3 linked regions of the Homo sapiens genome follow. The protein of the gene in region 1 purifies or fractionates together with the protein of each later gene. This does not show direct contact. Each region holds a gene or a part of one and is shown in the gene's direction. Other genes may lie near its edges.

Region 1 (3,651 bases):
CCTACGAGGTATGTTGGCAGCCCCTCCTCTAGAGGGCTCTTAGCAAAACCCAAAGAGAGATTTGGGAATTGCAGCATCTTTTGAAAGCAGGGAAATTAAAAAAAAAAAAAACAAAAACCAAAATCCCCTCTGAGGTGGAATAATGTTAATGTGGAGAAGAGAAAGATGTAAGGAGTCCAGATTTTTAAAGTTTCCTAATGAAAAGTTTGGCCCATGGGTAGGCCCTGCATCCCTGATCTAGCGCGTGGGGCAGCAGGTGCTGCTGAGTTACGCTCCTTGGCAGTGTGTGCCCCTGGACCAGGTGTGTTGGTGTCAGCTGGTAGCTTCATCCTGTTTGTTTTTCAGATGATCATGCACCCTAAGGGCACATCTAGGCCCCCTGAGAGCACCTCCTTTCTGTGTCTGTTCTCAGGAATGCTGTTGAGCTCTCCTGTTGCAGGAGCATGAGCGCCAGGGGCTCTGGTGTCTGAACAGCGTGTTTTGCAGGATGACTTTGACAACGATGTGGATGCTCTGCTGGAAGAAGGCCTTTGTGCCCCCAAAAAGAGGCGAACAGAGGAAAAATATGGCGGAGACAGCGACCATCCGTCCGATGGAGAGACAAGTGTGCAGCCGATGATGACCAAGATTAAAACAGTGCTCAAAAGTACGTGTGTGGGTCAGAAGCAGTGGGTGTTCCAGGGCAGTGGAGGGGTGGTTGCTTCCTTAGCAGAAATGCTTTGAGAGAGCTCTGGTGCCAGGTAGTGGGCTGGGTGGAGGCATGTTTGAGGACAGGACAGAAATATCTGAGGAGGGAAACACAGGATGGGAGGACGTCCTGATGCATGACCCAGATGCGGATCCTGGTGTGTGCTATGGAAACCACAGAGCAGCAGGCACTGTGCAGAGGAATGGGAGGGGACTTCTGAGGGGGTCAGGAGGGGATGTTGGTATATGCCAGGAGCCAGCATGACCATCAGCTGGAGGGTGTGGAGACCAAGGGCAAGGTGGGTACACAGTGAGATGGCAGGTGATAGTTGTGATCCAGGTTCTAGTCCTGGACCAAGTGTCACAGGAAGCCACCAGAAGCAAGTGGTGTTACCTGATTTTTGTTTAACAACATGGCTTCTGGGCCACAGCATGGTGTGTGCACTTCAGCTGGGCAGGGTGGAAGTGCCCTGGTCGACGTGGCACTTCCTCAACTTTGAGTTGAGGGTAGTGGGGAGAGCACTTGAGAGGCGCCCAGAGTTGCACTGTGAGGCTCTGTCATCGATGTGGTGCAGGTGTTGGGGGAGTCGGAGTTGGTGGCTTGGAGGCACCTATGAGGGTCCTGGTGGAGATGTGGGGCTCGGTAGAGGGACTGAAGAGATGCACGGGGACTCAGGCTCACAGGTGAGACCCCAGGCTGAGGGCTGGGGTGCACAAGGTGGCAGGGTGCGACTGGGAGCAAAGCAAGGGGCGGGTGGCACATGGCCATCCTCCTTGGGCCATTGAGGGGACAAGTTAGCTATGCCAGGTGCCACATGTTGCTGCCTATGTCGTGTTGGTAGCAGTTAAGCAGGAGGGCTTTTGGTCTAGACGGTTGCAGGCAGGGTAAACCTGGGGCTTCAGCTTCTGGGGCTGGGGGCAGGAGTCTTGACCTCGGGGCCTCTAGGAGGCTGGTTTGGTGCTGCATTTTCAACAGGCTCATTCAGAAGGTAAACCCACATTCGTCCTGCACAGCTCACTGGTCAGCAGCCATTCTGGCCTGGATGCCTGGATGTTCACAGACGGACAGCTGCATGTGACCCCCACCTCAGGTGGCTGGGCCAACTTTGTGACCACTCACTGTCACAGAGGAGCAGCCCCAGCGGACCCGTGGCCCGTCTCTTGCTTGGCTCCGTATTCCCTTTGCTTCTTTTCCTGACTTAACCTAAAGCTGGCAGGAGGCAGCTCCATCTTGGCCTGACTCTGTGGGGAGAGAGCCCACGCAGTGTGCATGCACCCCTGACCTTTAACACTCCCTCCCTGAATCATCACCTGATGGTGGCCTGGGTACAGGTGTCAGGTCCAGGGTCAGGGCCACTTGGTGGGTACCTAGCCCTGAGAGTCACTGGCCCTTTTTCCCCTTATGTATATTTTTTAAGGTTTCATTTGCTTTCTTCTGTTTTTTAATTTTTTTTTTGAGGCGGGGTCTTGCTGTTACCCAGGTTGGAGTAGCTCACTACAGCCTCAGCCTCCCAGGCTCAAGTGATCCTCCCACCTCAGCTTCCCAAGTAGCCAGGACTATAGGTGTATGCCACCATGCCTGGATAATTTTAAAAAGTTTTTTGTAGAGTCAGGGTCTTGCTGTGTTGCCTAGGCTGGTCTTTCTAAGTTTTTAACTTGTTCCCAATACCTGTGAGAAAATTAAGTTTTAGTTACATCTTTGCCTTACGCTCTTCCCAGCAGTCAGGCCTGGTGGCAGGTGTCAAGTTGATAAGTCGTAAACCTCTTCCTCACAACTGCCTATAAAGCAAAGAAGGGGTTGGGAGTAGTGTATTAAACCAACTTAGAAACGGAATCATTTGAAGCAGTGTTTTGTATGCTGCTGAGAGTGCAGCTCAGTTACAATAAAGACTTGTCACCTGGTCACTGGGAGCAGTGGCTGACAGCCATGCAGTTTATTAGCAAAGCTCATCCAGCCCCAAGGCGCCTCTGGCCACAACCAGACAGGCAGCAAAGGAGTCCAGTGTCCACAGTGCTTACCAGATGTGGAGGCAGGAGCTGAGGCTGGGACTTATATCTTGCACAGACCTGTTCTGTGCTCCTTCATGTGCTGGTTTGACACGTGTAAATTCCCACCTCAGGCCACATGCTATCTGTCCTAGGCCTGGAGGCATAGCAGTGAGCAAGGCAGAGAGGAATTTCGATTATCTGTGAAGACCCAGTTAAACACATGCTAGTACCCAACAATTTCTTGTGCAGGAGGTGCTGTGGCAACAATTCCAAGTGTTTTTACAGTGATTATAGGATGTTCTTGTCTTCCTGTGCAGGTCGTGGCCGCCCACCTACAGAGCCGCTGCCCGACGGGTGGATCATGACATTCCATAACTCTGGAGTCCCGGTGTACCTACACAGAGAGTCTCGGGTGGTCACCTGGTCCAGGCCATACTTCTTGGGAACGGGAAGCATACGGGTAGGGGAGGCATCAGTCGTGACTTTAGGCTTGTAAGTTCTCAGACCAAAACGTGCACATCCACACACATGGCACCGCAGCCAAGCAGAGGCCGGTGAAAGGCATCAGAGTTTCAGACTCTCGGGTTGTCCTTGTAATCCATATTGCAATTTCACTATCCACAGAAACACGACCCTCCTCTGAGTAGCATCCCTTGTCTGCATTATAAGAAAATGAAGGACAACGAGGAACGGGAGCAAAGCAGTGACCTCACCCCTAGTGGGGATGTGTCCCCCGTCAAGCCCCTGAGCCGATCTGCAGAGCTGGAGTTTCCCCTGGATGAGCCTGACTCTATGGGTGCTGACCCGGGGCCCCCGGACGAGAAAGACCCACTAGGGGCTGAGGCAGCCCCTGGGGCCCTGGGGCAGGTGAAGGCCAAAGTCGAGGTGTGCAAAGATGAATCCGTTGGTGAGTTTTTGAAGGACTCTTCCCTTCTTGCCTCCTGGGACCCATGAGCTTTGTTTTTCTAATGAAGG
Region 2 (3,174 bases), on another chromosome or scaffold:
GCATGAGCCACTGTGCCCAGCCAGTGTTTTTTTTTTTTTTTTTTTTATGGGAGGATGGGCAGGTTGTTAGCTGTCGAGTGCTATTGAGATGAGAGAGAACTCAGAATGCAGTGGGGTAAGGATTGCTGAGTAATGTGGAGGGCCTGTTTGAGGTAAATGGCAGTGGTAAGAGGTTGCTCCATTATGAAAGCCCTCTTCCAGAGTTCCTGATAGGGCCCCAGAAGTTCATTTCTGATTGCTTTGATTTTTTTTCAGGGGAGCAGGAAGCCAGTTTATCATTTGAGAGTGAGAATAGGGGAGAGGAAATATCTTCCAGGCCCACAGTGCATAGAAATACCCAGTCAGGGCAAAATGATTTATCTGTTTACCTCTCCTCATCACTTGGGCCCAGAGCAATCAGCAGTGATTAGGTAGAGAGGAGCCGAGCAGAGGGAAGAGCATACCAATCACTCCTCCCTTTCCCAGTGCAGGCTCCTAGACTTAGCTGGGGCAGAGCTGGGAGAGGAAAAAGGGATTTAAAACTGCAACAGGTGCAGATTATTGTTACACAGGATTAGACATTCTAATTAATTGAGATTATGTTTGTTCCTTAAACTGATCACAGGACTATCTATTAAGAACATCACAACCTCGCTGCAGCTTTTCTCCATAGCAGGGAGAGTACCTCCCAGTGAATAAAATTTGGAGGGTGGTAAGAGACAAGAATAAAATTGGGTTTGGTTATCCGTGCCTCATGCTTGTTCAGCATCCCTTTGAGAGTTCTCCAAATAAATAGTTACTGCTTCTGCAGTTATTGGTGTGCTCCAGCTTCTGTTCCCATAATATAGTCCAGTCCTAAGGGAACACAGTTCTAAAAGAAACAACATGATCTTGGCAGAGACACCGCTCAGCTCCAAACCCAACCATTTATGTAACTGCACAAAACTCTCTACAGCTTTTCACAGAGACCAGTAATTAGAACCTTTCATCCCCTGGTCATCCTCCTTCCCAGGTGAATTCTCTGACCAGCCATCTGGTTTTAGGATACCCAACTCCTGCAGTAACTGCCTTACTGGTGGTCTAATTGCTTCTACTCGTGTCCCTAAAGCAATTAATTTTCCACACAGCCATGTGATCTTTTTAAAATGTAAATCAGCTTATGTCACTTCTCTGCTTAAAATCCTTCAATGGATTCTCACTGCCTCGAGAACAAAAGACAAACTTTTCAGGCCCCGTGTGATCTTGCCCAGGCCTCCGTCACCATCACCATCTGCATCTTAACCCACTCCTCCCCTTTCACAAAACTCCAGCCACACAGACTTGCTTTTTATTCCTCAAGCTTTCCAAACTGTTTCTACTGAGAGTCTTTGCACATGCTCCATCTTCCTTGAATACTCTTTCCCCAGTGAGCTCATTTTCATCTTCCTGAATTCATACCACTATTACCTTTGCTTCTGTGGAAGAAACTGGCCAGATGCTCACCCAAATGTCCTCTTTCTGGACACAGGTAAACTGCATTTCCCAGCTCCATGCATCTAGGCCTATGTGAGTAGTTCTCAACAGTGGAAAATGAGTGGAAGTGATGTTTCAATACTAGACCAAGGCAGTTAAAGGGTGGCTGAGCCATTTCCATTATTCTCTTCCTCCTTCCTCTTCAAGGTAACCTTGAAGCACATGTTTTGACGGTGATGGAGTCATAGCATAGAAGAAGTCTGAATACCTGAGTTACTATTTAGGGCATAATAGCTACTTGACCAAAAACATCCATATTGGACTTTGAACAAGAAAATAAACTTGATTACATTCTGCTAGTGAGTTTTGAGGGTGTTTTAGCAGTTATCATTATATACACTGGATATATCTTCTATGGTATCCTGTCCACCTTACTCTTGACCACAGTACCCTCTTTGTTTCCTTCAGGGTGTTTCAGATATTTAATTATCTTGCCAGATGCCAGTCAACACTTTCTTTTTGTCCCATGAGTTTAAAATCAGGGGAAAACATGTACTCCCAATAGGAAGTTGAGATACTCTTTTTTTTTTAAATCCGTCATTGTGACTGTGACCGGAAAAACAAATCCCACTAAAGAATGTCCTAAACAGATGTTTTTTTTTGTCATATAACCTGGAGTTAGGTGATTTGGCATTGGTTCTGGAGCTGAAGGATGTTAGGGATGAGGTCTCTGTAGTTTTCTTGTCTCATGGTCACGAAATGAAGTGTTATTGATTAAGCAGGGATGCCCTACTTAGTATTAGACTTCTTGGAAGTCTCCTTAATTGCCACAGCCCCTATCTTTTTGGCTTCGTTTCAAGGGTCCTTCTACATTGTTAATACTCTGGTATAAATACGTTCCATTATTCCCTATAACATGACTGAAACCAATCTAAAGTATTAACATTTTAAATATGTTTTTGGGCCAAGTGCAGTGGCTCTTATCTGTGATCCCAGCTACTAGGAAGGCTGAGGTGGGAGGATTGCTTGAGCCCAGGAATTTCAGGCTGTAGTGAGCTATGATTGTGCCACTGTACTCCGGCCTGGATAACTGAGATCCTGTCTCAATAAATAAATAAAACAATTATATATATGTATAATATATAATATTATATATACATATGTATGTATGATGCTTTTCATCCCCACCCTTTCCCACATCTCAGGAACCTGTCAGCAACTTATCCAGTTTAAAGCTGCTGTTCCTCTACCTCAGTGGTTTGGGAGAACATGGTCATTATTTCACTCATTCTTTACTTCCTGTCTCTTCTAGGATTGGAATGGGGGAGGGCATATTAAACGAAGAAAGTCTCAGCTTACGTGATTAAGGTACCATTGGTGTGTTCTGTGCAGACAGGCATTTAACTGTTGACTCCTTTGTGAGCTCTTGGGGTTCTCTGGAGCTCTCCATGAGGACTGGGGCACTAACTGACTTTGGTTGCCTCTTTTTGATGCACAGCCCACACTGCCCTTCAGCTCTTCAGCCCCTGACCCTGACAATGTACCCACAGCCTCCTCGTGCTAAAGTGCTTCACCCTTGTACGCAGCTCTCCTGGGAATGGTCCCAACAAACCCTCAAGACTGGTTACCTTTCATGGAACCCACAGGAAATGCATGCATATTTGTCCTGCCAAACTGGAAGTGCAGCCCAGCCAGCAGCTTGCTTTTCTCACCCTGCCTTGTCGCAGCCAGCCTGACTCTTAC
Region 3 (3,651 bases), on another chromosome or scaffold:
AAATTAGCTGGGTGTGGTGGCGTACGCCTGTAGTCCCAGCTTCTCAGGATGCTGAAGCGGGAAGATGACTGGAGCTTGGGAGGTTGAGGCTGCAGTGAGCTGTGATCTTACCACTGCACTCCAGCTTGGGTGACAGAGTGAGACTGTCTCAAAAAAAAAAAAAAAAAATAACTGCTTCCTTTTGACATAGTAATTCCCTATTAAGGAAGATGATCCAAAATGTCAGCAAATAGTTCTTTACTGAGGTGCAGGAAGTTATTATACAATTAGTGTGTGGATGTATTATTAGAATCGTATAGAATAAAAAGAGAAGGTCCCCATGTGCACCCCCTTCCTACATCCCCTTGTATCTACAGGGTCATTATTAGGTTTGCAGGCACCATGTGGATCATAATGCCAAAAACTCAGGAAACTTCCAAAATACACAATATGCTTAAGTAAGTTATGGTTCATGCATATGATGCAGTTACACTGGTCATTATGTCTATGAAAATGCCTGTGATGTAACTGAAGTCTAAAAAGCAAGAAACAAACTTGAAAATGGATTATGTGAAAAATACAGAGTAAGTAAAAAAAAAAAAAAAACGACAAAATGGGCCAGGCACGGTGGCTCACACCTGTAATCCCAGCACTTTGGGAGGCCGAGGTGGGCGGATCACCTGAGGTCAGGAGTTCAAAACCAGCTTGGCCATCATGGTGAAACCCCATCTCTGCTAAAAATACAAAAAATTAGCTGGGCATGGTGGTGCGCGCCTATAATCCCAGCTACTTGGGAGGCTGAGGCAGGAGAATCATTTGAACCTGGGAGGCGGAGGTTGCAGTGAGCCAAGACGCGCCATTGCACTCCAGCCTGGGGGACAAGAGCGAGACTTCTCTCAAAAAAAATATGGCAGAATGGTAGTCAAGGGCCATTTTTGTCCTTCTTTATACATCCAGGTATTTTTCAAGTTTTTTTTTTTTCTTAATGGAAAAGTGAAAAACATAATAGTAGAAAGAAAAATGTAATGAACCCTTTAATTTATTACTTAGGTTTTTTTTTTTTTTTTTTGAGATGAAGTCTTTCTCTGTTGCCCAGGCTGGAGTGCAGTGGCTCGGTCTTGGCTCACTGCAACCTCCACCTCCCGGGTTCAAGCAATTCTCCTGCCTCAGCTTCCCAAGTAGCTGGGATTTACAGGTGTGTGCCACCATGCCCTCATTACTTAGTTTCAACAGTGAGCAATGCTGCGCCCATCTTATTTTCATTTCTTTGCTCCTCTATTTCCTTCTGAGAGCAAGTGTTGGATTTTTATTTAGCGAAAAAATAAGATATAGAGATAGAACTGCTACAAGGGCTGATGGAAGGGCAGGCCTGTATTAATAGCCCTTGTCTCTCTTCAGTTGCTGCCCATTGAAAGAGCTGCTCGGAAGCAGAAGGCCCGGGAAGCTGCTGCTGGGTGAGTTTTGGAAGCTATTGGGATGGAGCATAGGAAGCCACTGGGGTGGGGAAGCTGTGAGGAAGGAGGAGGTATCTGTTTTGGTCTGTGAATCACTCTGTTCCTGGACCTGTTTCTAGGATCCAGTGGAGTGAAGAGGAGACCGAGGACGAGGAGGAAGAGAAAGAAGTGACCCCTGAGTCAGGCCCCCCAAAGGTGGAAGAGGCAGATGGGGGCCTGCAGATCAATGTGGATGAGGAACCATTTGTGCTGCCCCCTGCTGGGGAGATGGAGCAGGATATCCTTGCAGGGCAGAGTGAAGAGTTAGGAGGAAGGTGGTTGGGAGAGGGATTTCCAGGCCTTAGGACATCATGACACAGTTCCTTAACAGGCCCACATGCCCAGGCTCCAGACCTGCAACGAGTTCACAAGCGGATCCAGGATATTGTGGGAATTCTGCGTGATTTTGGGGCTCAGCGGGAGGAAGGGCGGTCTCGTTCTGAATACCTGAACCGGCTCAAGAAGGATCTGGCCATTTACTACTCCTATGGAGACTTCCTGCTTGGCAAGCTCATGGACCTCTTCCCTCTGTCTGAGGTACTGGATTGCCAGAATGCCTCTTTTGCTTTTCTTTTCTCGCCTCCTTACGCTGTGTAAGGAAGATGTTCGGCCCCCTTGCTCCCCTCTTCTGACTGAGCTCCTTAGCCAGCCTCACTTATTCCCTGCTGTCTTGCCCCGCAGCTGGTGGAGTTCTTAGAAGCTAATGAGGTGCCTCGGCCCGTCACCCTCCGGACCAATACCTTGAAAACCCGACGCCGAGACCTTGCACAGGTGAGGGGTGGCCTTTGAGGCTCACTCATCTCAGAAGGGAAGTGACTTCTGCCAACTCCAGAGATTCCTCTGTGCTACCCTGACTGGGTGGGGCCTTAGGACCTAAGCATGATCCTGGGGGGGCAAACCCAGAGGCCTGATGTCTCTGGCAGGATAGGATCTGGGGGCCTAGGACCTCTGTGGAATGGGAAGTTCATACTCTGCTCCCTGTGACTAGGATGATGAGACTTCAGGATGAGCGTGCTGCCCCCAAGGAAATTGGAGGGAGATCATTGAGGAGCTGGGGAAATATGATTCCTGACTGCACAAAAAAGACACATATGCACAGTCAATATTTTAAACTCATTTCCAAGGGTTCAGGGGCCCCAGGTTAAAGACCCCTGTTGTAAAGTCAGTTGTTGGGTTATATGTGTTGTATATTTCCTGGTGTGAAGAAAACCTAATAATGTAATGTGGTATAACCAATGTCATTAAATTTTTAGTATAGTGGAGGGGCTCAGCCTCTTAGAAAATCAGATGCCACTTCTAGGAAATAAAGTAACAGGAGGTGGCATCCTGCTCCATTGGGATGAAGTTCAGATCTTGAGTTAGGAGCCTGAGGTTAAGAAAAAAGGGCACCATAGGATGGAGTGGGAGAGAGAAACTGCTCAATGACTCCATGATGACTGTGTTTGGAGTAAGCACTATAGGAGTTGTGGGGTATGGGCCATGTTTTTATGAAGCATGTGTTTAATGTCTTCATCTGTCTTCTGGGTAGAGTAGCCTATGAGGTTATTAAAATCTTCATCCCTACCGGGCGCGGTGACTCAACGCCTGTAATCCCAGCACTTTGGGAGGCCGAGGCGGGCAGATCACCTGAGGTCAGGAGTTAGAGACCAGCCTGGCCAACATGGTGAAACCCCATCCTATGAAAAATACAAAAATTAGCCAGGCATGGTGGTACATGCCCGTTGTCCCAGCTACTCAGGAGGCTGAGGCACGAGAGAATCGCTTGAATCTGGGAGGTGGAGGTTGCTGTGAGCCGAGATTGCGCCACCTCACTCTAGCCTGGGCAACAGAGTGAGACTCCATCTCAAAAAAAAAAAAAAAAAATCTTCATCCCTTTTCAGGCTCTAATCAATCGTGGGGTTAACCTGGATCCCCTGGGCAAGTGGTCAAAGACTGGACTAGTGGTGTATGATTCTTCTGTGCCCATTGGTAAGTCTCCCCCACCCAAGAGCCCTTCTACCTCTGTCCCTGTCCCTACCGCATGTCACAGGGTGGTCCTTCTCCACAGGTGCTACCCCCGAGTACCTGGCTGGGCACTACATGCTGCAGGGAGCCTCCAGCATGTTGCCCGTCATGGCCTTGGCACCCCAGGAACATGAGCGGATCCTGGACATGTGTTGTGCCCCTGGAGGAAAGACCA

Evidence for each region.
Region 2: the proteins of DGCR8 (region 1) and RRP8 purify together in Homo sapiens (co-immunoprecipitation; 3 studies listed by BioGRID and IntAct, with this or other methods). This does not show direct contact.
Region 3: the proteins of DGCR8 (region 1) and NOP2 purify together in Homo sapiens (affinity purification with mass spectrometry; 2 studies listed by BioGRID and IntAct, with this or other methods). This does not show direct contact.

Annotation. Positions count from the first base shown.
Region 1 is NC_000022.11:20,086,676-20,090,326, forward strand, and holds part of DGCR8 (microprocessor complex subunit DGCR8), read left to right. Parts: coding exon 1-8; intron 9-486; coding exon 487-646; intron 647-2,993; coding exon 2,994-3,136; exon of another isoform or gene 3,137-3,168; intron 3,169-3,300; coding exon 3,301-3,583; intron 3,584-3,651.
Region 2 is NC_000011.10:6,594,457-6,597,630, reverse strand, and holds the end of RRP8 (ribosomal RNA-processing protein 8), read left to right. Parts: 3' UTR 1-2,559; downstream 2,560-3,174.
Region 3 is NC_000012.12:6,561,673-6,565,323, reverse strand, and holds part of NOP2 (28S rRNA (cytosine(4447)-C(5))-methyltransferase), read left to right. Parts: intron 1-1,075; coding exon of another isoform or gene 1,076-1,174; intron 1,175-1,377; coding exon 1,378-1,433; intron 1,434-1,552; coding exon 1,553-1,710; intron 1,711-1,809; coding exon 1,810-2,009; intron 2,010-2,153; coding exon 2,154-2,243; intron 2,244-3,352; coding exon 3,353-3,440; intron 3,441-3,519; coding exon 3,520-3,651. UniProt on the Homo sapiens protein: S-adenosyl-L-methionine-dependent methyltransferase that specifically methylates the C(5) position of cytosine 4447 in 28S rRNA. Required for efficient rRNA processing and 60S ribosomal subunit biogenesis.